Homo sapiens: one gene and its partners. The protein of the gene in region 3 interacts with the protein of the main gene of each other region in a pairwise test. Each region holds a gene or a part of one and is shown on either strand. Other genes may lie near its edges. The genes, in order: ATP5F1C, HCK, NGEF, SH2D1A, FAM118B and NUDT21.

Region 1 (3,500 bases), on a different chromosome or scaffold from region 3:
AGCTGTCCTTTGTTTTTTTATGTGTGTGTGTGTGTTTTGTTGTTGTTTTTTGTTTGTTTTCTTTTTGTGTTTTTTTTTGAGATGGAGTCTCATTCTGTTGCCCAGGCTAGAGTGCAATGGTGCAATCTCAGCTCACTACAACCTCCCCCTCCCAGGCTCAAGCGATTCTCCTGCCTCAGCCTCCCCAGTAGCTGGGATTAACAGGCCCCCACCATCACACCTGGCTAATTTTTGTATTTTTTTTTTCTGAGTCGGAGTCTAGCTCTGTCTCCCGGGATGGAGTGCAGTGGCATAATCTCAGCTTGCTGCAAGCTCTGCCTCCCGGGTTCACGCCATTCTCCTGCCTCAGCCTCCCAAGTAGCTGGGGCTACAGGCGCCCGCCACCACGCCTGGCTAATTTTTTTGTATTTTTTAGTAGAGACGGGGTTTCACCGTGGTCTTGATATCGTGACCTTGTGATCCGCCCGCCTTGGCCTCCCAAAGTGCTGGGATTACAGACGTGAGCCACCGTGCCCAGCCAATTTTTATATTTTTAATAGAGACGGGATTTCACTACGTTGGCCAGGCCGGTCTCAAACTCCTGACCTCAGGTGATCCGCCCACCTCGGCCTCCCAAAGTGCTGGGATTACAGGCGTGAGCCACTGTGCCCGGCCTCAGCTTACAGCTGTCCTAAGAACACCTGCTTACACTAGGCAGTTGCCAGCTAAATTTAAATGCGTATTTTGGAAATAACCAACTGCTTTGTAAATTAGAGATTTATTGTATTTAGTGTATTGCATATAAAAAAATTACTGCTTTTGTTTGTTTTTAAGCTCTGTATGAAAAAGCTGATATCAAGGGGCCTGAAGACAAGAAGAAACACCTCCTTATTGGTGTGTCCTCAGATCGAGGACTGTGTGGTGCTATTCATTCCTCCATTGCTAAACAGATGAAAAGCGAGGTTGCTACACTAACAGCAGCTGGGAAAGAAGTTATGCTTGTTGGAATTGGTGACAAAATCAGAGGCATACTTTATAGGTAATTTAAATATATATTGTTTATTTTCATAAAGATGTAAGCACGAATAAATCTTCTCTCAAAAGTTTTGACAAACTCTCAAAACCTTCATCAATAACAAGGTATATTCTTCAGGGCCTTTTTTGGTATATTCACAAGGGGGTGTTTGTTTCCTTTTTCTTTTTTCCAGGATATATTGGAACATTTCTGTTTTCCTTCCCCTGTTTTCTACCTTTGCTTCTTCATCCGGATCATAAGTTGAATGCCATGTGAATATCAAAAGCTATCAGCATTAAGCCAAATGAGGCATCTGAGGAGCTGTTACAGCCTGGAAATGTTAGCAATAGTTCATTAGGATTAGAAGGAGAGGAATAAAGGGGAAAAGAATATAAAACAGACCTCATTTTTAGTTCTTAGTTCTTTGCAGGTGCTGAAGGAAAGGAATGATGATAGTGTGTGGAACAACTCAGGAAATCACCACCACCCATACCCCAAAAGACCTGATCCATGGTGACAATGTTTTCTCCTGCCTGTCCCCTGTGCTCTTTCAGCAGAAATCTTATTAAACTAGCTATGTGAGCTCTTGCTTTTCTTATAGGACTCATTCTGACCAGTTTCTGGTGGCATTCAAAGAAGTGGGAAGAAAGCCCCCCACTTTTGGAGATGCGTCAGTCATTGCCCTTGAATTACTAAATTCTGGATATGAATTTGATGAAGGCTCCATCATCTTTAATAAATTCAGGCAAGACAGATTTAGAAATCAAAGCTTTTTTATGTTCATGCTTTTGTTCATATTTTGAAATAACAGTTTAAAAATTATTTTGAGATTTACATTTGTTTTTGTCAATTCTAGGTCTGTCATCTCCTATAAGACAGAAGAAAAGCCCATCTTTTCCCTTAATACCGTTGCAAGTGCTGGTAAGTAGTTTTTCTATGATACATATTTTTTGGCATATAGAATGGAGAGATTTGTACACTAAGGCAGACAGTGTCAAGATATCTGGTGGTAGCTATAGCAAATGATTTGGGGCTGTTTCTTTTTTAGATGGAATCTTGCTGCCTCCCAGGCTGGAGTGCAGTGGCACCATCTCGGCTCACTGCAAGTTCCGCCTCCTGGGTTCACACCATTCTCCTGCCTCAGCCTCCCTAGTACCTGGGACTACAGGCACCCGCCACCAAGCCTGGCTAATTTTTTGTATTTTTAGTAGAGACGGGGTTTCACCATGTTAGCCAGGATGGTCTCAATCTCCTGACCTCGTGATCCACCCGCCTCGGCCTCCCAAAGTGCTGGGATTACAGGCATGAGCCCAGCCTTTTATTTTTTTATTTTTTATTTTTTGAGACGGAGTCTCACTGTGTCACCCAGGCTGAAGTGCAATGGCATGATCTCGGCTCACTGCAACCTTCGCCTCCCGGGTTCACGCCGTTCTCCTGCCTCAGCCTCCCAAGTAGCTGGGATTACAGGTGCACGCCACCACGCCTGGCTAATTTTTGTATTTTTAGTAGAGACAGCATTTCACCGTGTTCGCCAGGCTGGTCTTGAACTCCTGCCCTCAAGTGATCCACCTGCCTTGGCCTTCCAAAGTGCTGGGATTACAGGCATGAGCCACTGCACCCGGCCGATCTGGGGCTGTTTCTGAGAAGTGCCATCTCTTGACTTCCATGATACTTAATTCAGTCATTGTTTGATAACTCCTGCTCTATTCTGTCATTAATTGAAAAGTCAGTATCTATTGAGGTTCATCATTAGATTTTTTTGTCCTCAAGGATTGAAGAGCGTAGCTAGAAACTGGCTTTGCAAGTTATGTTTGGGACCTCTAACTACAATAAAACAGAAGCTCTAGAATAGAGAGTTGAACAGTGTTCACAGCTAATTTACATTGACTGACTCAATTCTCTTGTTTTATTGTTGGAATAAAGTCATCATTGATCATTGAAGCATCCTGGAATAATATTCTGGAACTGATTTTAGTTTTCTAAGGCTTTTTTCCCTTGTATATACCATCTATTTTCTAATACTTCATTTATTTTCAAGTATGTACTTTACACGTTAATGTTTCTGAAATTGAGATGGCTCTACCAGCCAATGGAACATCATTTATAATTGAGTACATTTTTTTCTCTCTTAATGAGAAATAAAGTAGGTGTTACAACCAGTACCATTTAATGAAATATAGTATTTTGATAATATATAGTACTGTGTCACCACTTGACCCCAATGAATGAATTTTGAAATGTACTTCTAAATTTCTACAACATTAAAACTACGATTCATACCAATTTCTAGTTCTCCCACTCTTTCATGTGCTTTGAAAGGTTTTCCCTCTCTCATTTTCCAGATTGATACATTCAGATTTCTTCAGTAATCAAATGACTAAGTTGGAATTACTGCACAGGTTGAGTATCCCTTGTGTGAATGCTTAGGACCAGAAATGTTTGGGATTTCAGAATATTTTCATATTTATAATGCAGTATCTTGGGGACAGGACCTGAGTCTGTACAC
Region 2 (5,352 bases), on a different chromosome or scaffold from region 3:
CACGGTTCTGGATTGGAGCTTCCTGGAAGCCAAGGCAAAATGGAAACCCAAGCAATTATAAAATTGACAAGACCCACCAAATGAAGCAGGGTGGGGTGAGGGGAGGGAACAGCATGTGCCAAATCCCTGTGGTGGGAGGTGAGTTGGGTGCTTGAGGGACTGAGTGACCTGCAGGGTGACTGGCACATAAAAGGCAAGGGGAGTTTAGTGGCTGATGAGGCTAGAGGGGTGGACGAGGCTGGGTCATGTAGGGCCTGGGGGTCATAGTAAGTCTGGCATTTATTTAAGAGCAGTGTTAAGATTAAAGTGGGCGGTGTATGTGTGTGACATAACCTGAGTAGTGTTTTAAAGCTATTTTTATTTGTTTGGGTTTTTTGTTTGTTTGTTTGTTTGAGACAGAGTCTCGCTCTGTCACCCAGGCTGGAGTGCAGTGGCTCAATCTTGGCTCACTGCAAGCTCCGTCTCCTGGGTTCACACCATTCTCCTGCCTCAGCCTCCCCAGTAGCTGGGACTACAGGCGCCCACAACTGCGCCTGGCTAATTTTTTGTATTTTTAGTAGAGACGGGGTTTCACCGTGTTAGCCAGGATGGTCTCGATCTCCTGACCTTGTGATCCGCCCACCTCGGCCCCCCAAAGTGCTGAGATTACAGGCGTGAGCCACTTAGAGCTATTTTTAAATCCTTGCAACAGCACTTCAAAGGCAAAGCTTACCATTTCCACTTTACAGATGAGGAAGCTGAGGAAGCCACGGCTCAGAGACGTTAAGCCACTTGCCCTAGTGTGCACAGCTGGGAAGTGGTGAACCCGCCTTTCAACCCACAGTTGTCTGAGGCCTAAGCCCATGATTTCGCTTCCCTCTCTGAGAGTTGAGATGAGCAGGAAAGACTTTCTGGAGGAGGCGGGTCTGCAGCTGGGCCTTCTAGGGTGGTACGGGAGACCAGTGGGCTCTGACCACCTTCCCTGCTCTCTATCCCCCTCCAGCCACCTACAACAAGCACACCAAGGTGGCAGTGAAGACGATGAAGCCAGGGAGCATGTCGGTGGAGGCCTTCCTGGCAGAGGCCAACGTGATGAAAACTCTGCAGCATGACAAGCTGGTCAAACTTCATGCGGTGGTCACCAAGGAGCCCATCTACATCATCACGGAGTTCATGGCCAAAGGTGCTGCGTGCTGGGGCTGGGGGTGCAGGCTGTGGCCTATACTGGTCAATTGCGGGCCCAAGGGTGGCTTGGACATGGTTCTTGCCCTTGAGATGGCCCCAATCTGGCCAGGAGCTCTTCCAACAAGTACTCATTGAGAATCTAATGTGGAACAATCCAGCCCTCCTGGTTAGTGGGGTGAAATCATGTTAAGGGGTCACCAAGGGGAAGGGAGAACAAGGGGCTACCAGGAGAAGGGAATGGGGCCAGAATACTCCTGGGCAATGGGAGAAGGGGCTTATGGTTCACAGTGAGCCTTAGAGGCCAGGGTGTGGCATGGGTGGTGGGGGTGCCACTCTCCCGCATCAGCCACCTTCCCTGTACTTGCCAAAGCCCTGGGAGAGGGAGCTGGCAAAGCAGCAGTTCTGCCCCCACCCCCGCCCTGCCACAACTCAGGATTTCTTGGGGAATTTTTTTAGGCCACTGTTTCACAACCATTTTCAACCCCTGCCATTTTTTGTTTGTTTGTTTTTTAGGGACAGGAACTTGCTCTGTTACTCAGGCTGGAGTGCAGAGGTGCAATCATAACTCCTGGGCTCAAGTGATCCTCCCACCCCAGCCCCCCGAGTGGCTGGGACCACAGGCCCATGCCACCACACTCAGCTAATTTTATTTATTTATTTACATATTTATTTTTAGAGACAGGGTTGCCCTCTGCCTACCCAGGCTGGAGTGCAGTGGCGTGATCATAGTTCACTGTAGCCTCAAACTCTCAGGCTCCAGGATCCTCCCGACTTAGTCTCCCCAGTAGCTGGCACTACAGGCATGCACTACCACACCCAGCTAATTTCTAAAAAAATTTTTTTTTTTTTTGAGACAGAGTCTCACTCTGTTTCCCAGGCTGGAGTGCAGTGGCACAATCTCGGCTCAATGCAAGCTCCACCTACCAGGTTCACGCCATTCTCCTGCCTCAGCCTCCCAAGTAGCTGGGACTACAGGTGCCTGCCACCATGCCTGGCCAATTTTTTTGTATTTTTAGTAGAGACGGTGTTTCACCGTGTTAGCCAGGATGGTCTCAATCTCCTGACCTTGTGATCCGCCCGCCTCAGCCTCCCACCATGCTGGAATTACAGGCGTGAGCAACTGCGCCCAGCTTCTAAAATTTTTTTCTAGAGACAAGGTCTCGCCATCTTGCCCCAGCTGGTCTCAAACTCCTGGGTTCAACTGATCCTCCCAAAGCTTTGGGATTATAGGCATGAACCACTGAGCCTGGCCTAACATATATATTTGTAAATTTCTTCTATAGATGGGGTCTTGCGATGTTGCCCAGGCTGGTCTCAAACTCTTGGCCTCAGGTGATCCTCTCACCTCGGTCTCCTAAAGTGTTGGAATTACAGGAGTGAGCCTCGTGCCTAGCCACTCTGCCCATTTTTTGATAAACAGAATCATCTCATGCAATCCCATTTAGTGCGATTTGAAACCTCAAGCCTTTTTCATTTTAACTATGCAATTATGCCAGTCCTGTGAAGGCATGATCCCAGCCATCCAGGCTCAGGGGCTGTCTCAGTCACAGAATCCATCTAGCAATCAAAAAGTCACTTCACTAAAACTCAATTCTCTTTCTCAAACACTAGGAATTGCAAACAAATATTCGTATTTAAATCTACTACTATGAAAAATCTTCACCACACACTAAAGTACTAGATTGGTGCAAAAGTAATTGTGGTTTTTGCCATTAAATAGTAAAAGTAGTAAATGTTCCTCCCCTCTCCCCCATATAGGAAGCTTGCTGGACTTTCTGAAAAGTGATGAGGGCAGCAAGCAGCCATTGCCAAAACTCATTGACTTCTCAGCCCAGGTGAGAGCCTAACGAGGAAACGGGGAAGGGAAACAGGAATTCGATTTTTTTACTTGCCAAATATTTACTGACCACATACTATGATGATAGCAGTAATAATAATGGGTAAAATGTATTGAGAGCTCAGTATAAAACTATGTTTTTTGCATATATTTTATTATACATGTACTCATTCATTTAATCATCCTATAAGCTTTATAGGCTGGGATTTTTGTTATCTATTTTGGTATAACAAACCATCCAAGTCCTAGTAGCTTGAAACAACAGCAATTGTTATTTCTCATGATCCTGTGGGTTGCCTGGGTTCAGCTGGGTGGTTCTTCTGCTCGTCATGGTAAAGTGAGGTGCAGATGTTGGCACTTGCCCAGGCTAGAATGTCCAAGACATGGCTCAGCCTCCAGGGTCTCTCCACATAGCCCCTCACCACCCAATCACCCAGCCTGAGCTTCTTCACGGCGCAGCAGCTGGGTTCCAAGACAGAGCTGGACCAGGGGCCAAGCCTTCATGAGCAGGCTCTCATTAAGCCTCTGCCTGCATCAGGCTTGCTAATGGCCCATTGGCCAAGTCACATAGCCATGCCCAGAATCAGTGTGGGAGGGGACTGACCAAGGACACAAATCCCAGGGACCCCCTCAATGTAACAGTCTGGCCACAGAGTAGGTAATTATCATCCCATTTTACAGAATAGGAAATTGAAGCATAGAGCAGAAGTAAAGTACAGATGTGGAAACTGAGCCCCAGTGTGGTTAAGTGGCTTGCACAAGTTACTGTGCTAATTATGGGGGATATAGCAGTGAACAAAATGAAAATGTTCCTGTCCTAATAGAGTTCACAATCCAGGTGGGAAGATGAGTATTAAATAACCAAATCTCTTAGAGACCATGACCCAAGTGGTCCTGGCTGAGTCAAAAGAGCACAGTATCTAACAAAGTAAATAATGTTCACAAATCGCAAAAACACTGCTGAAAACCTAATTTTCTTTCTCATGTTCCCCACGCCCCTTGCAGCTCCTCTCACCCCCAGCCTAAGCAGTTTTTTCACTTCTGTCCTCTCTCATGCTCTCTCTGATGTCTGGGAAAACAGAGTGTAAGGACGGGGTGGTATTAGAGTGCATAGCTAGAGCATTTAGCCTGGTCCAGGAGCAATCAGAGAATGCTTCCTGGAGGAAGTGGCCTCTAGGCCGAGCCTGAAGGATGAATAGAAGTTCAGTAGATGAAGAGAAAAGGTAAAGGTCTTTTAGACAAAAGAAACAGCCTGTGCAAAAGTAGGTGAAGGAGTTCAGCCTACTCAGCAGGAGCCCAGGGATAGTGGGAGTTGAGTGAGACCCTGCCTGGGCCTCAGCTGGGCCTGCTGGAGATGCCAAGGGCAGGGCTCATTTGAGTATGCAAATTCAGGGGCCCAGAGGACACCACAAAGTGTAACAAAAGACTCTACTTTCAGAGCCTGGAATGCCAGAGGCATATGGAAATGTGTTTTCACTCCTATGGGCCAGGTCCTCTGGGAGACAATAGACTGGTCTGTTGCTAAATTATCATCTTCAAACTAGCAGAAGCCCTGCTGGGCAGCAGTCACCGACCAGGGCAAGAGCCACTCTGCCCGTTTCACAGAGGGGAAAACAAACCAAGGGAGGAAAAGAGGTTCTGGGCCTTCATCTGTCCAGAAGCAGAGGTAGATTCAGAGCCCAGGGACAGAAAGGAGCCCACCTGGGGCTTTGGTCTTCACCTCCAGACTCAGAGAGGCAGCTTGGAGCAGCAGGTGGAGAACTGGACCACACATGTGGGGTTTCTGTAGTCACAGCTTTGTGGGTGACATGAAATGTTATTCAGTAGCTGCATATATACAAACAGGTCAAAACAGAGCTGCTCTGACTGAAGCAGGGTGGGGGGCTTATCTGTGGCCTTTCTTTTGTCTCCCCCACCCCCATATAACCTTGAGGCATCCATAGGATTCAGTTGGAAGAGCTCTACAGGTCCTTCCAGCTCTGATGCTGTGACTCCCTGATACTCTTTGGAAGCAAACCCAAGGGTGCCCAACCTCATGGCACCCTATCTGGGGGTCATGAAATCTCACCGCCTTTATCAACCCGCAGTGCTTACACCTGGGCCCAATAAACCTACTCGTTATTCATTCAGTCAGCAGACCCTGGAGAAGCAACACTATTAGCATCTGGGCTTAGGAGTCACACAGAGTTTTGTTTTGATCTCAGCTCTGCCTGTGTAGCCTCAAGCAAGTTGCTTAACCTCTCTGAGTGCCACTTTCCCCCACTGGGAGCACTGGGAGCCACTCTTTAAATAAATACTTAACTATGTGCCAAACACTCTACTAAGCCCTTGATGTAGGCTTAGGGGATTCA
Region 3 (5,859 bases):
TGAGTGGATGGATGGATGGTGGATGGATAGATGGATGGGTGGATGGGTGGATGGATGGGTGGATGACTGGATGGGTGGATGGGTGGATGGATGAATGGGTGGGTGGATGGGTGGATGAGTAGATGGATGGGTAGATGGATGTGTGGATAAGTGGGTGGATGTGTGGATGAGTGGGTGGATGAATGGATGAGTAGGTGGGTGGGTGGATTGGTGGGTGGATGGGTGGGTGGATGGATGGATAGATGGTGGGTGGATGGATGGATGGGTGAAGGGATGGATGGTGGATGGATGGATGGTGGATGGATGGGTGGATAGATGGATGGGTGGATGGGTGGATAGATGGATGGGTGGATGGGTGGATAGATGGATGGGTGGATGGATGAATGGGTGGGTGGATGGGTAGTTGAGTAGATGGATGGGTAGATGAATGGGTGGATGAGTGGGTGGATGAATGGATGAGTAGATGGTTGGGTAGATGAATGGGTGGATGAGTGGGTGGATGAATGGATGAGTAGATGGTTGGGTGGATGGATGGATGGATGGATGGATGGATGGATGGATGGATGGATGGTTGGATGGATAGATGGTGGGTGGATGGATGGATGGAAGGGTGGGTGGATGGATGGGTGGGTGGATGGAAGTGTGGATGGGTGGATGGATGGGTGGATGGGTGGATAATGGATGGATGGATGGGTGGATGGATGGGTGGATGGGTGGATGATGGATGGATGGGTGGATGGATGGTGGATGGATGGATGGACGGATGGATGGGTGGATGGGTGGATGGATGGGTGGATGGGTGGATGGATGGGTGAGAGAATAGATGAGAGACTACTTCAATCTGGCTTTCAGGGACAAAACTGAAACCCATGTTTTGTGGCAATCAGATGGCTGTGGGAACTTTCAAAGATGGCCCTCAGGGACCCCCACCCCTGGTATTGTGCCCTGTGTAATCCCCTACCTTTGAGTGTAGGCTGTGCCTGATGACTTCCTTCTAACGAGTAGAATATGCCAGAAGTGATGGAATATCACATCCTTGAGTATATTACAAAAGACTGACCTACCTCTTCCCAGACTCTCTCCATAGCCCTCTCTGATGCAACGAGCTGCCAGGGCGGAGAGGCCCACATGGCAAAGGACTGATAGTGGCCACAGCTGACAGCTGAGAGGGGCTGAGGCCTTCATCCTACAGCCCTAAGAAACTGAATCCTGCCAACACCAGCAGCTTGGAAGTGGATCCCCCCTAGTGGAGCCATGAGATGAGACCTCAGCCCCTCCAACACTTGGATGGCAACTTATGAGAAACCCTGAGCAGAGAACCCAGCCAAGCAGTGCCCAGACTTCTAGCCACAGAAACTGAGATGACAAATGAGTGTTATTTCAAGCCACACACTTTGAGTTAATTTGTTTCCAGAACAGATAGCTAAAACAAACGCTGATTTGAGTTTTATATAAAGATGGATGATGTAGCAATTAAACTTGGCAAATGATGGTAGTGGTTTTGATACTAGTTGGCTTGGGTTTGAATCCTGGATCCCCAACTTACTAGCTGTGGGGCTTTGAGCAAGATGATCAATTTCTTGAGCCTCTGTTTCTGCATCTTTAAAATGGGCATGATTCTCTGGTCATAGTGACAACACAAGGATTACATAGATTATGTAATGTACTTAGCCCAGTGCCTGTCATGTAGTAAGCACTGGATTAAAGGAAGCTATTAGAGGGAATAATAATAATAATAATAATAATAATAATAATAATAATAATGGAGCAAGATGCCTTACAAAGCAGTGAGTGTTCCATGCCTGGAAGTGATTGAGTTAAGGCCAGATGGCCATGGCAGGAAGTGACTAGAACCCTGGAGGACCCCAAAGCCTCTCCCAAATCTCAGATTTGAGGGCCGTGCAGCTGGCTTGGCCAATGCTTGGGGTTGGTGGGCCAGCTGAGCCACGGGCCCCTCTTGGTGTGACCATCAGCATTATCTTGCACTGGGCGGGCGGCGGGTATTCCAGCCATGCCCAGCCTTCCCCTCAGATAGCCCTTCCCTCCTGCACCACTTTTGTGTCAGGTATGTGGCTGCCACCCTGGCTCAACCCATGGGGCCCAGGAAGGTAAACACCCAGCCGGGAAGTGATCGTTATGGGCTCGTGGCCAGCTATGGGCCAAGGCAGGTCTAAAGGTCGGGAATGCTTACCAGTGAAGCTTTTCCAGGACAGGACGAAGTTTTTGGCTGTGGGCTCTCTGGGACAGAGTGGAGCGCCTGTGGATTTAGCCGGGGACACACCATCCTGCTCGCAGGTGCCTGGACAGGACAGGGGACGAGGGAGGAACACTCTCTGAGGAAGCCCAACTCCTATGAGCTCCTCTCTGGCAGGTGAGAGAATGGTTTTGGTATTTTTTAAAAAAATAAAATGAGATAAAACAAGAGAAGGAACAGAGGCTACCGCTAGGACAGGTAGGAAAGGAGATTACCACCCATCCATTCACTGAGGAGGAGCCCCCAAGAGAAACAGCAGCCCTGGATTCCACCCGAGGGATCCTGTCTGGTCTCGGCTTCAGCACTGCCCCTCCTGGCACTCAGTTTCACCATCTGGGAATCAGGATAAGGACTCCTTCCAGGCGCTCTTCCATTATGGCTGTGGGGTAAGTGAGATCAAAAGCAGGAATGGCTGCATAATTGCAGGGCCCTGTGCAATATAAAAATGCAGGGCCCCTTGTTAAAATAGTAAGGCTTTCAAAAGGACAACAACACAGCATTAAAGCAAGCCGGGGCACCTTCTAAGAACAGGGCCCTGTGACTGCCCAGGCCCCACACCCACGACGCCAGTCCTGATAATGAGCGTATATGTAAACGGAAGTGCCCTGATTCCTGTGTGCCATGGCACAAATCTCAGGGTCAGGAAGTGCACTTGGGAAACAGAAGTCATAGTCGTGAAGTGACAGCCCACTGCGCTTTAGCTCCCCCAGCACTGCCCCCTCCGCTCAGGGGCCCCTTTCAGAAAGACAGAAGGCCCTACCCCTCAGAACCTTCCTGATTTTTGCATCTGGCTGGCCTCAAGCCACAGCACGGTGTGACTGAAATGTGTAGGGACACAGTTTTCTTGGATGTGAAAGTGGTAGGTTCTTATTGTCTATCTTGATTTAAAATTTGGGACAGTCACACAGTCTCTGGCTGTGTAGAGGTGGGACTTGTGTTTCCTGGGCTCGTGACAGCTCTGCTATGTTCCATTGACTATCAGTGTATTTCTGCTTTTTGGGAAAATCCTTAATGCAATAAGGCCACTGGTGGGAATGTTCCAGCTTGGACACTTGCCATGTGTCTTTGTCCTCCCTGCCCCTTCTCTCTTTCTCTCTCTCTCTCTCTCTTTTTCCATTTAGGCTTCCCCTTTGCCCATGTCTCAGGCTGCCCCTTGGCACTGCTTAGCTCTGAGGAAGTAGAAGCCAGGGTCCCCTTGGGGGTCAAGCTTTCTGGTCCATGAAGGGAGACCACAGACCACCTCCCTCCACCGCACTCTCCTCCCACATCCCTTTCTGGAGCCCAAATTGTCATGGGAACCCCTCCCAGGGAGGGGATCCCCACAGGAAAGCCAGGGGTTGATCCAATGACAGTGTGAGTAACATTCCACAGCTTTCTGCCCCAGTGGGGCTGGGGACACAGATGAGGCTAGACATGGGGGAAGATGAATTGCTTTAAGAAGAGCTGATGCATGCCTGTAGTCTCAGCCACTCAGGAGGCAGAGGCAGGAGGGCTGCTTGAGCCCAGAAGTCATGCGGTGGGCTATGATCATATCACTGCATTCCAACCTGGGCAACCTGGCAAGACTCTGTCTCTGTTCCTTTTTTTTTTTTTTTTTCATTGCTTTAAGAACTTCCCTTGGCCTGTGGGAGACCGGAAGCTTGTACCAGTAACAAAATAGCCCAGATGTTGTGGGGCCACCCAGAGCCTCTCAGAGGAGACCAAACCTAACCACCCAAGCCTGCTGGCTCTACCAGGGGCGCAGGAGCTGCTGTTTGTCCCAAGAAGCTGGTGAGCCACCAGCACCAAGTCGGACATCCCGTCTCCCAAGATGACGTCCCTTCCCCATCTACATGGGCCCATTGCTTCCCGAGTAAGGAGTCAGCTCTGATGCTCTGAAGTCACCCCCCAGCACAACCCCAATGGCAAAAATTCCTTTACTCCTTCATAGATAATTGCTGTGCACAGTGTATGTGTGAGGCTTTGAAGTGGGGCTGGGGACACAGATGGGACAATGGTGGCCCTCAGGCTAGTGGAGATGAAGCGATGCTGTGTCCCACACCCCCGAGGCCAGGCCAGAAACCCCGCTTGGTGAAAAGAGCACACCAGCCCTCTCACCCCAACAACGGTGATAGGATCCTGAGGCTGAGAGGCACCGTGGCCCAGCGGAGCAGGGGGTTCCATCTCTGAGCCTGGATGGGCTGCCTCTTTTCAGACCCCCCTTCTCCCCGCACCTAAGCCCCCTCTGCTACCATGATGGTGTCTTCAGGAGGCTGCTGGGCCTCAGGAAAAATTCCTTCCCTTGGCCTGGGACCACCTCTCCCCACCTTGGGAGAGGTCAGACCAGGGGGTGGAATTCTGCCTCCAGACTGGAGGACCCACCCCAGAAGGCTGAGGACTTCAGCCTTACTCCTCCTCCCTTTGTTTGGCAGCCATCCTGGAGGCCAGGGCCGTGGGAGACCACATGGGGTCTGAGCACTGAGGAGGGGCCATTTGCTGGAGCACCCTCTGTGGGCTGCTTTTGGGAAACTAGCTCAGGTGGTTGATTAAGGACCTGGGAGCCTGGGTGAGGCCATCTCACAATCTTCCTGCCTCAACTCACTTTGCCTGTGGACAAGGAAAAAAAAAAATCACACGTTCAAATGAGGAGGATGGGCACCATCAAAGGGATGGATGATCAGCAAGGCCTGCATGGAGGAGGTGGCCTCTGAGCTGGCCATCATTCAACAATCTTCCATCACTTATTAATGATTTTCCAGGAGGAGGAGAAGAACTGGGGGTGTGGTTTGATGTATTATAAAGCAAGCATTACTACCTTGAAAATAAGGTAGTAATTCTTTTCACACTCACTCAGAATGAATGCTCCAGGTTCTCTAAATAGCATACGTTCACAGATAGCACATTCCAGGTGAAGGGACAGCAGGGTTTTAGCAAAAGGGAGGGAGCCCTGCAGTAAGGGTTGGGCCAGTGGAGGCAGAGACAGGGGAGGCATGAGGTCTGTTTAAAAGATGCCAGCTGGGCGTGCTGGCTCACACCTGTAATCCCAGCACTTTGGGAGGCTGAGGCGCATGGATTACCAGAGGTCAGAAGTTCAAGACCAGTCTGGTCAACATAGTGAAACCCCATCTCTACTAAAAATACAAAAATTGGCATGGTGGTGGACCCCTGTAATCGCAGCTACTCAGGAGGCTGAGGCAGGAGAATGGCTTGAACCCAGGAGGCAGAGGTTGCAGTGAGCCAAGTTCACGCCATTGCACTACAGGCAAGGTGACAAGAGGAAGACTCCAATTCAAAAAAAGAGAGACAGGACAGGTGGAGTGGAGGGAAGGTGGAGGGGATGGCCCAACCCAAGATGCCAGGACCCCAGAGGTCCACAGAGATGAGAGTGGGGGTCTGGATGGCCAGCGTGTCCCATGGGAAATTCATCCCTCACTTCTGCACCCTGCACCTGGTGGCTGTGCCTCAGTTGCCTTCACTTTGGGCTGGAGCTTCATGCACCAGCACCATGTCTCCCAAAGCTAGAAGCTCTGACCTCCAATCATCCAGGAGTTTTACTTTTTTTTTTTTTCTGTAGAGATGGGTTCTCACCATCTTGCCCAGGCTCATCCCAAACTCTTACACTCCAG
Region 4 (5,352 bases), on a different chromosome or scaffold from region 3:
ATTACGGTTTTGTTAGTTTACATTTACCTCTTTAATTCCATTTGGAGTTGTATTTTGATGTGGATAAAAGATCTAATTTGATTTTGTTTCCAGATAGCTAGCAATTGTCCTAATATAATTTATAAATACAACTTCCATTCTTCATTGATTTGCTAGCCGACTTTACCATATATTAAATTCTTATATATAACAGTTACTGTTTCTGGACTATCTATTTGTCTCAATTGATCCATTTATTCTTGCACTGATAGCACTATAGTATGATAATGTTTTAATATATTTTAAAAATTATTTGCTATTCTTATCTGTTGGTTCTTCAAAATGAAATCTAGAATCATTTTATTAAGTTAAAAAAAATTCATTGGACCAAATGTTTTAGCTCTCACATGCCAGTGAGAACACATGATATTTGTCTTTCTGTGCCTGGCTTATTTCACTTCACATAATGACTTCCAGTTCTATTTACATTTCTGCAAATAACAGGATTTCATTCTTTTTAATGGCCAGATAGTATTCAATTGTATATGCATAGCACATTTTCTTTATCCATTCATCTGTTGCTGGACTCTTCTATATCTTGGCTACTGTAAATAGTACTGTGATAAATGTATGGGCGCAAGTATCCCTTTGATATATTGATTTCCTTTCCTTTTGATAGATACCCTGTAGTGGGATTCCTCAATCATATGGAGATAGAGAGTAAAATGATAGTTACCAGAGGTTGGGAAGGGTGGAAGGCGATGAAGAGAGGTTGGCTAATGGGTACAAACAGACAGTTAGATAGAAGAAATAGGTTCTAGTGTTCAGTCGCACAGTACGGTGACTATAGTTAACAATATCTTATGTATTTTGAAATAGCTAGAAGAGAGTACTTGAAATGTTCTTACATATAGAAATGATAAATGTTTGAGGTGATAAATATCCTAAATATTCAAATCCCCTGATTTGATTATTACAATGCATACATGTGTTGAAACATCACACTGTACCCCATGAATATGTACAATTATTATGTATCAAAAATTTTTTTGAAAACACCATTGGGGTTACATTAAATTTATTAATAAACTAAGAATGAATTGTCATCTTTAAATAATTTAGTCTTCCCTTCCCATAACATAAGTCTCTCCATTTATAATTTTTTTGTTTATATCCATCAATCAAGTTTTATAGTTTTCTTTTTGTATGTCTTATACATTTTTTGTTATTTCGAGTTATTGTGTGTATGAATGTGTATGCTGATTTTTAAAAATCATAAATGGGATCTGTTTCCACTATATTTTCTGTTTCATAGGAAAGCTACTGATTTTATGTTCTGTTCTTGTATTTATCCAGTGTACTGAATGCTCTTATTAATGCAGATAGTTTTTTTTTTAAGTTTATTCCCTTTGTTTTTTTTAGATACATCAAGTTTCTTTTCACTGAGGTACATATGTTCTCTCACATTTCTTCCCTTCTCACCCTCAATGTAGACAGCCATTGGGAAAGTTCTGACTGCCCAGTGGGATTGATGGTGATAAGACGAGAACTAATTTAAAATATTTAAAATAATTAGCTCAAAAAATAGTTTATTTCCATAGTTGGCATCCTTCTGGACATATCTGCCTTTGTTTGCTACTTATCTGATGGAAGATTTGGAAGAAGAAATGCTGTTATAATTCTTTAGCTTCAAGGACACATAATGAAGTCATTTGACATGTATGTCTTTAGATAAATGCATAATTATCTTTTTGTCCTTTAAGTTTTAAAGGGACAACTGGGAATAAAGTGCCTGTCAAACAACTGAACTGGAGAAATGGGGGAGGAGCAGTGATGAAATAAAATTCCAGTTTATCAGTTGCAATAAAGGGGAACAGTGTGGCAAAGAACTTGAAATTATAACTTAACTTCATTTAGTGAGAAATTACAACTTGCATTTAGTTTTTGAATTCAATTGGATATGTGCCTTGGTGCCACATTTATCTTCATGATAACTTAGGCCACCAACATTATTTTCAATTTCCTGAATACAATCCAGTGGTAAAGTGAGCCTGAAAGCCAGCCTAGGATTGTTTGCCACATATAAACCACCGAATGGATAATTCACGGCAAATAAGCCAAGTACTGACTCTGGTTGACAATGTAAAATTAAAGTTGCAAGATTAGCCTGAAGATGTCATTTAGCTTAAGCAAAGGGGGAGTCTGGGTTGATCTCTTTCGGGCTCTCCCCACCTGGCCTCTTCCCTTCAGCTCCCTCCACTGCCCTCCTTCTCTCAGTGGACAGTTCTAGCTCCATGTCCAAGCAGATTCCCTCCCTTTTTGAGAATTGTGCTTTTGGAATTGTCTTAAAGACCAATTTGTTAATACATTCCCTCTAGTATAAGAGAGGGGCAGCACAGAATGGTGGTTAAGAGCCCAGATCTTCCAGCCAGATCTCTGGGTGTGCATCCCAGCTCTGACCCTTAACTAGCTATTTTCCCTTGGGCAGGTTACTTTAACTTTCTGTGTCTCAGGTTTCTTACCTGTAAAACGGCAGATGGTGATAATGAGAGTACTTACCTCACAGGGTTGTTATGATGATTATGACATGAGTTAATATTTGTAAAGTTAACATGTAATATGTGTTTTTTAATATGAATAAAAGCTCTATAAATAATTGTAATACAAAGTTAGAACATCATAAGTATACGTAAATAAAACTTGATATGGAAGTTCAGGGGAAGAAGTGGTTATATTTATTTTCATGACTCATCAAAATATCACATAGTTTTACCATCACACTTGAAGTTGAATGACTTTCAACTGTTTCAAAAATTAAAATTCTCTCTGAAAGAATAAAGTTTGGGCCATTGTAAGTTTGGAAAGCTCTTGAATCAGAGTATAGTCTCAAAAATAATGGCTTTGTGTAGGATACTATTCCTCTGGATATAAAAGTTCTGAAACGTTTGTTAAAAATCATTATAGTTGTGTCTTGAATTTTGTATGTAGCATTAGTTCGTATAGACGTAGAGGGCATAGGTACTGGCTTGCTTTATTTGAAATGTCATGAAGAAGTCAGATGTAGCTAAATGTTTTCTTTTGTGTAGTACTTGACGTGGTATAAAAAAGGAATTGATGTGGATTTGTCAGTTCTAAACCAGGATCTGTCCCCAACACTGACCCACTGAGAAAATAAGAAATAAGTCAGGTTGGTTGCTTCTTGCTTCTTGTCCATTTCTAACCTGGACACTTTTTTACAGTTAGGGACAACTTTTGATGAAATAAAGACAAATTTCAATATCAGCAGAGACTAGATTAACACATGCTTTATAGTAATTAAAATAAATTAAAGGCAATGATAAAACTCCACCGTTCTTTAACAATTATTCATGTTCTGATTTTTTTGGTGATACATTTTAAACTCTAGGATTATCAAAAAGTCCAAAAAAGCTTTAATGAGGGAAGGAAGTTAAAAGTACACTACATTGCTGGTTTGTCTGTATTAAGGGAGGGAGTCAGAGGAAATATAATCCTGAAGGGGATGTAACAATTTAAAAAAATGAATTACATTTTTATGAGTTGTGATTTGCTTAGGCTAGGTTTGTAAGGCTCCAAATTGTAATTCTGCTTGTTTTTCTTAAAAAATTAGTCACTTAAATAACTACATGAAAAAATAACATGCAAGAATGCATTTACGTTAGTTTAAATTTACTTCTAGTTTATATACACACAGGGACAGACAGTTTTGAATAGTTGTAATCAGAGTGGCATCCCCTTGTGCCCACTTTTTACACATACTGTCATTTTATTTTTTTATTTTTATTTTTTGTTTTGTGTGTGTTTTTTTTAATACTTTAAGTTCTAGGGTACATGTGCACAACGTGCAGGTTTGTTACATATGTATACATGTGCCATGTTGGTGTGCTGCACCCATTAACTCATCATTTACATTAGGTATATCTCCTAATGCTATCCCTCCCCCCACCCCAGGACAGGCCCCAGTGTGTGATGTTCCCCTTCCTGTGTCCAAGTGTTCTAATTGTTCAATTCCCACCTATGAGTGAGAACATGCAGTGTTTGGTTTTCTGTCCTTGCGATAGTTTGCTGAGAATGATCGTTTCCAGCTTCATCCATGTCCCTACAAAGGACATGAACTCATCCTTTTTTATGGCTGCATAGTATTCCATGGTGTATATGTGCCACATTTTCTTAATCCAGTCTATCATTGATGGACATTTGGGTTGGTTCCAAGTCTTTGCTATTACACATGCTATCATTTTATGTCAACATAGTCCACATACTTAAAGTTTTCTGGAAAACCTAAGACTCTAACATTTTTGAATTTTGGCATAAGATTTTATTTGTTTATTTATTTATTTATATTTTTTGAGACGGAGTCTCTCTCTGTCGCCCAGCCTGGAGTGCAGTGGTGTGATCTCAGCTCACTGCAACCCCTGCCTTCCAGGCTCAAGCGATTCTCCTGCCTCAGCCTCCTGTGTGGCTGGGATTACAGGTGCGTGCCACCACACCCAGCAGTTTTTTGTTTGTTTGTTTTGTATTTTTAGTAGAGACAGGGTTTCACCATGTTGGCCAGGCTGGTCTCGAACTCCTGACCTTGTGATCCACCCACTTCAGCCTCCCAGAGTGCTGGGATTACAGGCGTGAGCCATCGTGCCCAGCCAGCATTAACATTGTAAACCTTCACCTTTGACATAGAAAGTGTAATTTTGAACCATTGTTTCTGCTATAATTCCTTTATTTTTCCCTAATTTATATATTTATTTCTAAACTGGCAAAATTGTATATATGTATTGTGTATGACATGATGCTTTGAAATATGTATACATGTGTAATAGCTAAATTGGGATAATTAGCATATGCATTACCTCACATACTTACATTTTGTGATGAGAACACTTAAAATCTACTCTCTTAGCAACTTTCAAGAATACAATACATTGTTTTTAACTATAGTTGCCACGTTGTACAATAGATCTCTTGAACTTTTTCCTCCTAACCTAAATCTTTTATCCTTTGACCCAAATTTCCCAATCCCCACCCTGCACGCCCCTACGAGCCCCTGGTAGCCACCCACCATTCTACTCTTGGCTTGTATTAGTTCAACTTTTTAAGATCCCATGTATAACTGAAACTACGCGGTATTTGTTTCTCTGCGCATAGCTTATTTCACTTTACAAACTGTCCTCCATATTCATCCATGTTGTTGCAAATGACAAGATTTCCTTTGTGTTTAAGGCTGAATAGTATTCCATTGTGTATATACAACATATTTTCTTTATCCATTCATCTGTTGATAGACATGTAGGTTGATTGCATTATGTCTTGGCTATTGTGAATAATGCTGCAATATACATGAAAGTGCAGATTTCTCCT
Region 5 (5,352 bases), on a different chromosome or scaffold from region 3:
TGGGATTACAGGCGTGAGCCAGCACGCCCGGCCCAGACTCGCTTTTATAACTGACACACTTAGGATAACAAATCTACTCCTGCAATAATGACATTAATCAATTCATGGAGGCACGGCCCTCGTGACTTAATCACGTCTTACTAGGTCTCGCCTCCCAACACAGTTCCGTTGGGGTTAAGTTTCCAACACATGAACGTTAGGGGACCAGTCCAAACCCTAGCAAATGGCATTTCACAGACAGGCTAGGGATCAGATATTACATCACATTACATAGTTACTTTCCCATTTCAAATTCCCTTCGTCCCAAGAGCCACTTTGTCTTTTCAGTTGTAAAGCCAGTTTCCCACCTGAAGTTGGTATTATAGTTCCTCATTAGTACTCAGGGATATTTACATGTATTCAAAATGAATCTGAAAAGCAGTTATTTAAGTAAGCCGTATGTTAAGAAGTAGGAGGTCTGGAAAAGTGGCTGATACCCATAATCCCAACACTTTGGGAGGCTGAGGTGGGAGGATCACTTGAGATCCCAGGAATTCAAGACCTACCTGGACAACATAGCCAGACCTCACATCTGCAAAACAAGACATTGGGATTCTGTTTAGAACTGATTGGTGTTTGATGTTTTCAACAGTTGCAAAATGCAAATTTTTAATTTAAAAAACGTATTAAATTGTTTACGTTAACCTTTTGTATACTGGATATTCTTCAGAATAAACCTATGAACTGCTGAATTATGGCATGTAGAAGTTAAGCAGTTTTTCCTAAATTCATAAACAGCTGTACAAACACCTAGGATTAGAAAAGGAGATGCTGAGGCTGGGTGTGGTAGCTCACACCTGTAATCCCAGCACTTTGGGAGGCTGAGGTGAGTGGATCACAAGGTCAGGAGTTCAAGACCAGCCTGGCCAAGATGGTGAAACCCCGTCTCTACTAAAAATACAAAAATTAGCTGAGCACAGTGGCAGGCGCCTGTAATCCCAGCTACTTGGGAAGCTGAGGCAGGAGAATTGCTTGAACCTGGCGGGGCGGAGGTTGCAGTGAGCCGAGATCACGCCACTGCACTCCAGCCTGGGTGACAGAATGAGACTCCGTCTCAAAAAAAAAAAAAAAAAAAAAAAGAAAAAGAAAAGGAGATGCCAAACCACAATTAGGGCTGTGTCTCAGTGGCGTTTCCCTACATAAGGCAAGATGAACGGAAAGTGTTGCCTTCTTACCTGGCACCTCATGAGAGGGTAGTTGTCGCTCTGCTTTGTACCCCAGCTTCCCTTTAATACCGACAGTAAATTCATATCCCTTGGCCAGGTTTATTTTCTTCATTCTATAAAAATGCCTATTTTAGGAAGCTTACGTATAGTAGCACTTGCTATCTGCTAAGCATTGTGCTAAGCACTTGGCATGTATCATCTCATCTTCCTTATTACGTTCGTATGAGATAGATAATATTTTATCCCCGGGATTTTTTTTTTTTTTTTTGAGATGGAGTCTCGCTCCGTCGCCCAGGCTGGAGTGCAGTGACGCGATCTCGGCTCACTGCAAGCTCCGCCTCCTGGGTTCACACCATTCTCCTGCCTCAGCCTCCCAAGTAGCTGGGACTACAGGCGCCTGTCACCACGCCCTGCTAATTTTTTTTATTTTTAGTAGAGACGGGGTTTCACCGTGTTAGCCAGGATGGTCTCGATCTCCTGACCTCGTGATCCGCCCGCCTCGGTCTCCCAAAGTGCTGGGATTACAGGCGTGAGCCACTGCGCCTGGCCTTTATCTCTGTTTTGAATTCAAAATATTCTTCCAAAATTTGTTACTGCTGTAACTAAAACAACTGACCTACCAAAGCACTTTGGACTAATTTTCTTTTTTCAAATCCCTCCTCAGCGTACCAGTAATGTTCGATCCACATTTTTCAAGGACTGTTTATATGAAGTATTTGATGACTTGGAGTCAAAGATGGAAGATTCTGGAAAACAGCTACTTCAGTCAGTTCTCCACCTGATGGAAAATGGAGCCCTCGTATTAACTACAAATTTTGATAATCTCTTGGAACTGTATGCAGCAGATCAGGGGAAACAGCTTGAATCCCTTGACCTTACTGATGAGAAAAAGGTAAAAAGTAAAGCATTGGTCCCTTCTTCAGGCTAGTGGATTTTATCTTCCTCAGAAAAGCTCTTTTCTAGTTGGTATATTGGTATTTATGTAGAGCTAGAAAGGAAAAATTTTTTCCCTGGTTGGAGTTTTTGTTTTTCTTTTTTCTTTCTTTTTAAAGATCAAATCAATATACAGTAAAATGCATAGAACTTAAAAGTGTTCAGTTCTATGACTCTTGACAATTTCATCCAGTTTTAAAGCAAGATTAGAGGAAGTCACTTGAACTGTAAGATCTCTTTAGCACTTGACAGTATTCAGTGGTGTAATATTGATAATGCTGGTTCTATTTTAGGATACCTTTTTTTATGGCATCTATTGGAAATGTATGAAAACTACTTTATACTGATTGGAAGAACAACTTCCAGGCCAAGCGATGGCTGAATTGAGGTTAATGTTTAGTGGAAACCTCAGCAGACTTTGTTTTAGCATAGTCTATACTGTACCTACCATAATTATTGAATTATAGATGTTGATCTGTGTCAGCTAATGAGATGAGTTCTTAAAGTCTCATTGGTCCTACTCTGTGATTTTTGTAATGTTTTTTCCTACACTTTGTTTTCCTCAGGAATCTGCCTTTATGTCCAATTTAGAGCCCAACTAAGTAGAGTTGAATAGACAAGTGATTTGCCTGCTGGCATTCAGTACTACAGTATTGCCCCTGCCAGAGTGGTAGCTGAAATACCACTCTTGTGGTTTTGCTGACCTTGATGGCAGGATTTAAAGGGAATTGAATTTAGAGAAAAGCTGCCCCATGAAGACTAGTTTTCTCTGGTCCAAGTGTCTTCCGCCTACGCCCTCATATTCTGTATGGTCAGCTCCTTCTTCATTTATAACTCTCAACCTAGGGATCCCCTCCTGAGAGACCTTCTCTGACCATCCTATTTAAATTGGATACTTATTTTTTTTATCCAGTCTCTTGTCCGTTTCCTTTGTAGCACTTAGTATTAACTTGCAGCTTTTTTTTTTTTTTTTTGAGAGACAGTTTCGCTCTTGTTGCCCTGGGTTCAAGTGATTCTCCTGCCTCACCCTCCTGAGTAGCTGGGATTACAGGCATGTGCCACAACGCCCGGCTAATTTTGTATTTTTGGTAGAGACGGGGTTTCTCCATGTTGGTCAGGCTAGTCTCAAACTCCTGACCTCAGGTGATCTGCTAACCTCAGCCTCCCAAAGTACTGGGATTACAGGCATGTGCCTGGCCGTTTTGTTTTGTTTTGTTTTGTTTTGTTTTGAGATGGAGTTTTGCTCTTGTCGCCCAGGCTGAAGTGCAATGGCATGATCTCAGCTCACTGCAACCTCCTCCTCCTGGGTTCAAGCGATTCTCCTGCCTCAGCGTCCCGAATAGCTGGGATTACAGGCACCCGCCATCACGTCTGGCTAATTTTTGTATTTTCAGTAGAGACAGGGTTTCACCATGTTGGCCAGGCTGGTCTCGAACTCCTGACCTCAGGTGATCTGCCCACCTTAGCCTCCCAAAGTGCTGGGATTACAGGCATGAGCCACCACACCCAGCACAGTTTTTATCTTGGCTGTTTATCTGTTTTCTGACTGTTTACCCCATAGGAATAGTAACTTCACTTGGATAGGTATCATGTTAGTCTTTCTTACCCTCATAACTCAAATACAACCCTCATGTCTCAAATATGACAGTTAGGTGCTTGGTAAATATTTTTTTGATTAATAAATGATTGGGCTGGGCACAGCAGCTCAGGCCTGTAACCCCAGCACTTTGGGAAGCTGAGGCGGGAGGATCACTTGAGCCTAGTTCAAGACCAACCTGGGCATCATAGCAAGACCCCATCTCTACAAAAAGTTTAAAAATTAGCCGGGCATGGTGGTGTTTGCCTGTGGTCCCAGCTACTTGGGAGGCTGAAGCAGGACGATCGATTGAGCTGAGGCAGTCGAGGCTACAGTGAGTTGTGATCACACTGTTGCACTCCAGCCTGGGTGACAGCATAAGATCATGTCTCTAAATAAATAGGCTGGGCACAGTGGTTCACGTCTGTAATCCCAGCATTTTGGGTGGCCGAGGTGGGTGGATCACTTGAGGTCAGGATTTTGAGACCAGCCTGTCCAACATGGTGAAACCCCGTCTTTACTAAGAATACAAAAACTAGCTGGGAGTGGTGGTGCACGCCTGTAATCCCAGTTACTTGGGAGGCTGAGGCAGGAGAATCATTTGAACCCAGGAGGCAGAGGTTTCAGTGAGCCAAGATTGCGCCACTGTGCTCCAATCTGGGCAACAGACCAAGACTCTGTCTAAAAACAAACAAACAAATGATTGAAATTTTAAAACTAGCAGCTTCTATGCTATTTGTGATAAAATTTCCAAAGATTATGACCAAGTGTGTTCATGGATATCAGAAGCATAAGGACCTTTTAAAAGCTGAGGATATCTATCACATTTGATGTTTTCCTTCTCATTTCATCCTTGGGCCTCAAGATTTGCATTGTATTTTCAGCCCACATTAGGGGCAGTGTTGCAGTCTAATGGTTAAAGACATTGACTGGTAGTCAGAATGGGGCCTAGTAACATTCAAATTCTAAATCTCGGTGCCTCTTGACTACTTTCCTGATTCATAGCCTATTTCTCCAAAATGTGATAAGAATAAATGTATGCTGTCTCCAGTCCTTGGGAAAATGGAGCCATGGAATCAGGTGGCTATTGCATTCGCTGTTGTCTAAATGATTGTTCTTCGCTGGCAGCCTTTTAGGTTCCTCAGAGGTGACTGAAGTGATTTTTCTATCACTTATCTATTGCTGTACAAGTAATGGCCGTGAAACTTTGTGGCTTGTAACAACAAATATCTTATCTGCCCATGATAAAGTATATTAACAATTTGAACTGGGCTCAGTGACTCAGCCAGGCATTTTTTCTGCTGATTTTTGCACCCTCTTCACATACCTGCAGACATCTGATGGCCGCACCAGGGCTGAGTGATATAAGGGGACCATACTTCCCTGCAAGCAATTGGCCAGGCCATATATGTCCCAGCAGGCTAGCCCAGGCTTCTTCACTTTCTTCGCATGGCAGCTGGATTCCAAAAGTAACACAAGAGAAGTAAGACTTCTTGTGCCAACACTTTTCAAGCTTCTGCTTGTGTGTGTTTGCTAGTATCCCATTGGCTAAAAGCAAGCCATGTGGTTAGCCTGGAGTCACTCCGAAGAGGGGCCACACAAGGGCCTGGATACAGAGGCTTGATTTCTTGGGGCGAT
Region 6 (3,500 bases), on a different chromosome or scaffold from region 3:
TTCAACCTGTGTATCTAGATTGTCTTCCCCACTCTGTAATTAGGCAAAGACTGGCTGATGATTCTCTGTAGTAATTGAATCAGAGAACAACTAGCAATGAAAAAAGTTTAGGGGATGGGGAGAATAAGAGTTCCTATTCTGAATAGTCAGACTCTTGGACCTCTATTAGGCTGACAGAATGTTAACAATTAGGCTTGTTTTTTTTTTTTTTTGTTTTTGTTTTTTTTTTTTTGAGGCGGAGTTTCACTCTTGTCGCCCAGGCTGGAGTGCAGTGGCGTGATCTCCAATGTGAGCAATGGTTGCTCACTGCAACCTCTGCCTCCTGGGTTCAAGCGATTCTCCTGCCTCAGCCTCCAGAGTAGCTGGGATTACAGGTGCCCACTACCATGCCCAGCTAATTTTTATATTTTTAGTAGAGATGGGGTTTCACCGTGTCGGCCAGGTTGGTCTCGAACTCCTGACCTCAGGTGATCTGCCTGCTTTGGCCTCCCAAAGTGTTGGGATTACAGGTGTGAGCCACTGTCAGTCTAGGCTTACTTATTTTTTTTAGAGACAGGGTCTCACTCTGTTCCTCAGGCTGGAGGATGGTGGTGTGATCATAGCTCACTGTAACCACAAACTCCTGGGCTCAAGCAATCTTCCTGCCTCAGCTTCCTGAGTAGCTAGGACTGCAGGTATGTGCCCATGATGCCTGGCTAATTAAAGAAAAGTTTTTTATAGAGATGAGATCGTGCTATGTTGCCCAGGCTGGTCTCAAACTCCTGGCCTGAAGCAGTCCTCCCAAAGCATTGGGATTACATGCATGAGCCACCAGGCCCAGCCAACAATTAGATTTATATATCCCAGGCTGAGGGTTGGAATTCTTGTTTCTGGAAAAAGTGACCAGTCCAAGAAAAACTTCAGATACTGCCATTTGGGAGCTGTCTTCGTCTGTTTAATGTTGCTATAACAGAATACCTGAGGCTGGGTAATTTATAAAGAAAAAGATTTATTTGGCTCACCAGTTCTGGTGGCAAGATTGGGCAGCTGGTGAGGGCTTCATGGTGCTTCCACTCATGGCAGAAAGCAAAATGGGAGTGGGCATGTGCAAAGAGACATGGCAAGGGAGGAAGCAAGAGTGAATCCAGGAAGCCACACTCTTTAACAACCCTCTCTCCAGGGAACTAATCCATTCCTGATGGAGGAAGGGTATTAAACTATTCATGAAGGATCCACCTGCATGACTCAAACACCTTCCACTAGGCCCTGCCTGCCAACACTGTCACATTGGGGATCAAATTTCAACATGAGTTTGGGGGCAGGGAGACAAACCATATCCAAACCAAAGCAAGAATTTTCTATAGAAATAATGTAGTCCTGGGCCAGGCGCGGTGGCTCACACCTGTAATCCCAGCACTTGGGGAGGCCAAGGCGGGTGGATCATGAGGTCTGGAGTTTGAGACCAGCCTGACCAGCATGGTGAAACCCCGTCTCTACAAACATAAACAAATTAGCTGGGCGTGGTGGCGGGTGCCTGTAATCCCAGCTACTCGGGAGGCTGAGGCAGGAGAATCAGTTGAACCCAGGAGGTGGAGGTTGCAGTGAGCCAAGATCATGCCACTGCACGCCAGCCTGGGCAACAGAGCAAGACTTCGTCTCAAAAAAAAAAAAGAAAAAAAAATATTGTAGTCCTATCACTCATGCACACAGAGGTGACAATTAAGCATCTTGTTGCTTCTCCCTTGTGAGTACACAACCAACTATCACCAGGCTTTTGGAGAAAACTTCTTAACAAGAAAAAGATCAAAAGAAGCAAAAGGACCTCAACAGAAGCAGAAAATTCAACCATTGACAAAACTATGATTAATATTCTTGGTGAGATGAGAGGAGATTTTGCACCTGTGAAACAGTGCTATTAAAAAGACATTTTAGCCAAGAAAAACCTCATGGATATTAAAAAAATGTTGGAAGAAATGAAAAATTCAGTAAAGAGTTAAGAGGTTCATTCTACCAGAAAATAGAATGAAAAGATAAAAAGATAGAATGTAGGTAAGAATAGATAAAATTAGTGGGTCATTCTAGAAGGACCAATATAAACTATAGATAAATAGAACAGAGTAAAAGGAAGAATTAGCAAAGCATAATTAGAGAAAATTTCTCAAACCTCAAAGGGCATGAGTTTTGAGATTGAGAAGACCTACTGGCCTTGCCTCTATAGTGAATGTTTAAAGATCCACGCAAAGGCATATCATCATGACGTTTTAGATCCTACAAACGAAAATAAAAACAAAAAGATGTAAAAGCTTCCAAAGTGGGAGGTGGAGGATTGGTAAGCAGAGAGGTTAAATGCAAAACATCAAAATCAGAAATTGCATTAAACTACCCAGAAATAATTCTGGAAGCTAAGGGATGGTGGAGTGTTGTCTTTGTAATTTTGAGAGAATATAATCTCTGTCCTAGAATTTTCTAATCAAACTATAAATCAAGTGTGTGGGTAAAAGTTACTTCTAGACATGCAGAGTTTCAAAAAGTTACATCTCTTGTACCTTTTCTCAGGAAGCTACTAGAGGGTGTTCACCCCCAAAATGGAATAAAATAAGGACTCCAGCTGTGAAGCAGGGTTGAGACTATCAAGTACAGATTACAGCAGGATGATAGAAAAACGTGTCTTAGGCTGGGTGTGGTGGCTCATGCCTGCAATTTCAGCACTTTGGGAGGCTGAGATGGGCAGATCACGTGAGCCTAGGAGTTTGAGACCACCCTTGGCAACATGGTGAAAAATTAGCCTGGTGCTGTGGCTTGCATCTGTAGTCCCAGCTACTCGGGAGGCTGGGGGCAGGGGAGGCTGAGGTGAGAGAAGCGCTTGAACCCATGAGGTGGAGGTTGCAGTGAGTGGAGATCGCGCCATTGCGCTCCAGCCTGGGTGACAGATCTTGTCTTGAAAAAAGGAAAAACATGTCTTAGAAAAGATGAAATTAATAGAATAACTGACAATTGATATTTGAATTGGGAAGAAATTTAAGTTATCATGGAGAATGTGGGAAATGAATTTAGTGATAGCAAAGGAAATGAAAGTTATTAACTAAAGAATAGGACAGTTGAACAAGTAAGGAGATACGGTTTGCTAATCATTGCTCTGTTGTGACTGATCTACCGGATCATACTAACTTAAATACTGAATATTGACTTAACCAAATATTGATAATGGGAAGATGGTGGAAGAAAAAGTGTAACTAGGATGTGTGATTTTAATATCTAAATTCTCATTCATAGTAGAGGGTTATAGGCTTTTAAAAAATGTTTTTAAAATGAAAATCAAGAGGCCAGGCGCAGTGGCTCACGCCAGTAATCCCAGCACTTTGGGAGGCCGAGGCAGGTGGATCACAAGGTCAAAAGATCGAGACCATCCTGGCCAACATGGTGAAACCCTGTCTCTACTAAAAATACAAAAAAGCTGGGTGTGGTGGCGGGCACCTGTGGTCCCAGCTACTCGGGAGGCTGAGGCAGGGGAGTCGCTTGGA

The links.
Region 1: the proteins of NGEF (region 3) and ATP5F1C interact in a two-hybrid assay, tested with the Homo sapiens proteins (one large-scale study listed by BioGRID and IntAct).
Region 2: the proteins of NGEF (region 3) and HCK interact in a two-hybrid assay, tested with the Homo sapiens proteins (one large-scale study listed by BioGRID and IntAct).
Region 4: the proteins of NGEF (region 3) and SH2D1A interact in a two-hybrid assay, tested with the Homo sapiens proteins (one large-scale study listed by BioGRID and IntAct).
Region 5: the proteins of NGEF (region 3) and FAM118B interact in a two-hybrid assay, tested with the Homo sapiens proteins (one large-scale study listed by BioGRID and IntAct).
Region 6: the proteins of NGEF (region 3) and NUDT21 interact in a two-hybrid assay, tested with the Homo sapiens proteins (one large-scale study listed by BioGRID and IntAct).

The regions. Positions count from the first base shown.
Region 1 is NC_000010.11:7,798,177-7,801,676, forward strand, and holds part of ATP5F1C (ATP synthase F(1) complex subunit gamma, mitochondrial isoform L (liver) precursor), read left to right. Parts: intron 1-813; coding exon 814-1,018; intron 1,019-1,254; exon of another isoform or gene 1,255-1,325; intron 1,326-1,595; coding exon 1,596-1,739; intron 1,740-1,850; coding exon 1,851-1,915; intron 1,916-3,500.
Region 2 is NC_000020.11:32,085,646-32,090,997, forward strand, and holds part of HCK (tyrosine-protein kinase HCK), read left to right. Parts: intron 1-982; coding exon 983-1,162; intron 1,163-2,922; coding exon 2,923-2,999; intron 3,000-5,352. UniProt on the Homo sapiens protein: Non-receptor tyrosine-protein kinase found in hematopoietic cells that transmits signals from cell surface receptors and plays an important role in the regulation of innate immune responses, including neutrophil, monocyte, macrophage and mast cell functions, phagocytosis, cell survival and proliferation, cell adhesion and migration.
Region 3 is NC_000002.12:233,009,580-233,015,438, reverse strand, and holds the start of NGEF (ephexin-1), read left to right. Parts: upstream 1-2,182; 5' UTR 2,183-2,371; exon of another isoform or gene 2,372-2,825; intron 2,826-5,859. UniProt on the Homo sapiens protein: Acts as a guanine nucleotide exchange factor (GEF) which differentially activates the GTPases RHOA, RAC1 and CDC42. Plays a role in axon guidance regulating ephrin-induced growth cone collapse and dendritic spine morphogenesis.
Region 4 is NC_000023.11:124,352,120-124,357,471, forward strand, and holds part of SH2D1A (SH2 domain-containing protein 1A), read left to right. Parts: intron 1-5,352.
Region 5 is NC_000011.10:126,248,637-126,253,988, forward strand, and holds part of FAM118B (protein FAM118B), read left to right. Parts: intron 1-1,869; coding exon 1,870-2,097; intron 2,098-5,352. UniProt on the Homo sapiens protein: May play a role in Cajal bodies formation.
Region 6 is NC_000016.10:56,441,333-56,444,832, reverse strand, and holds part of NUDT21 (cleavage and polyadenylation specificity factor subunit 5), read left to right. Parts: intron 1-3,500. UniProt on the Homo sapiens protein: Component of the cleavage factor Im (CFIm) complex that functions as an activator of the pre-mRNA 3'-end cleavage and polyadenylation processing required for the maturation of pre-mRNA into functional mRNAs.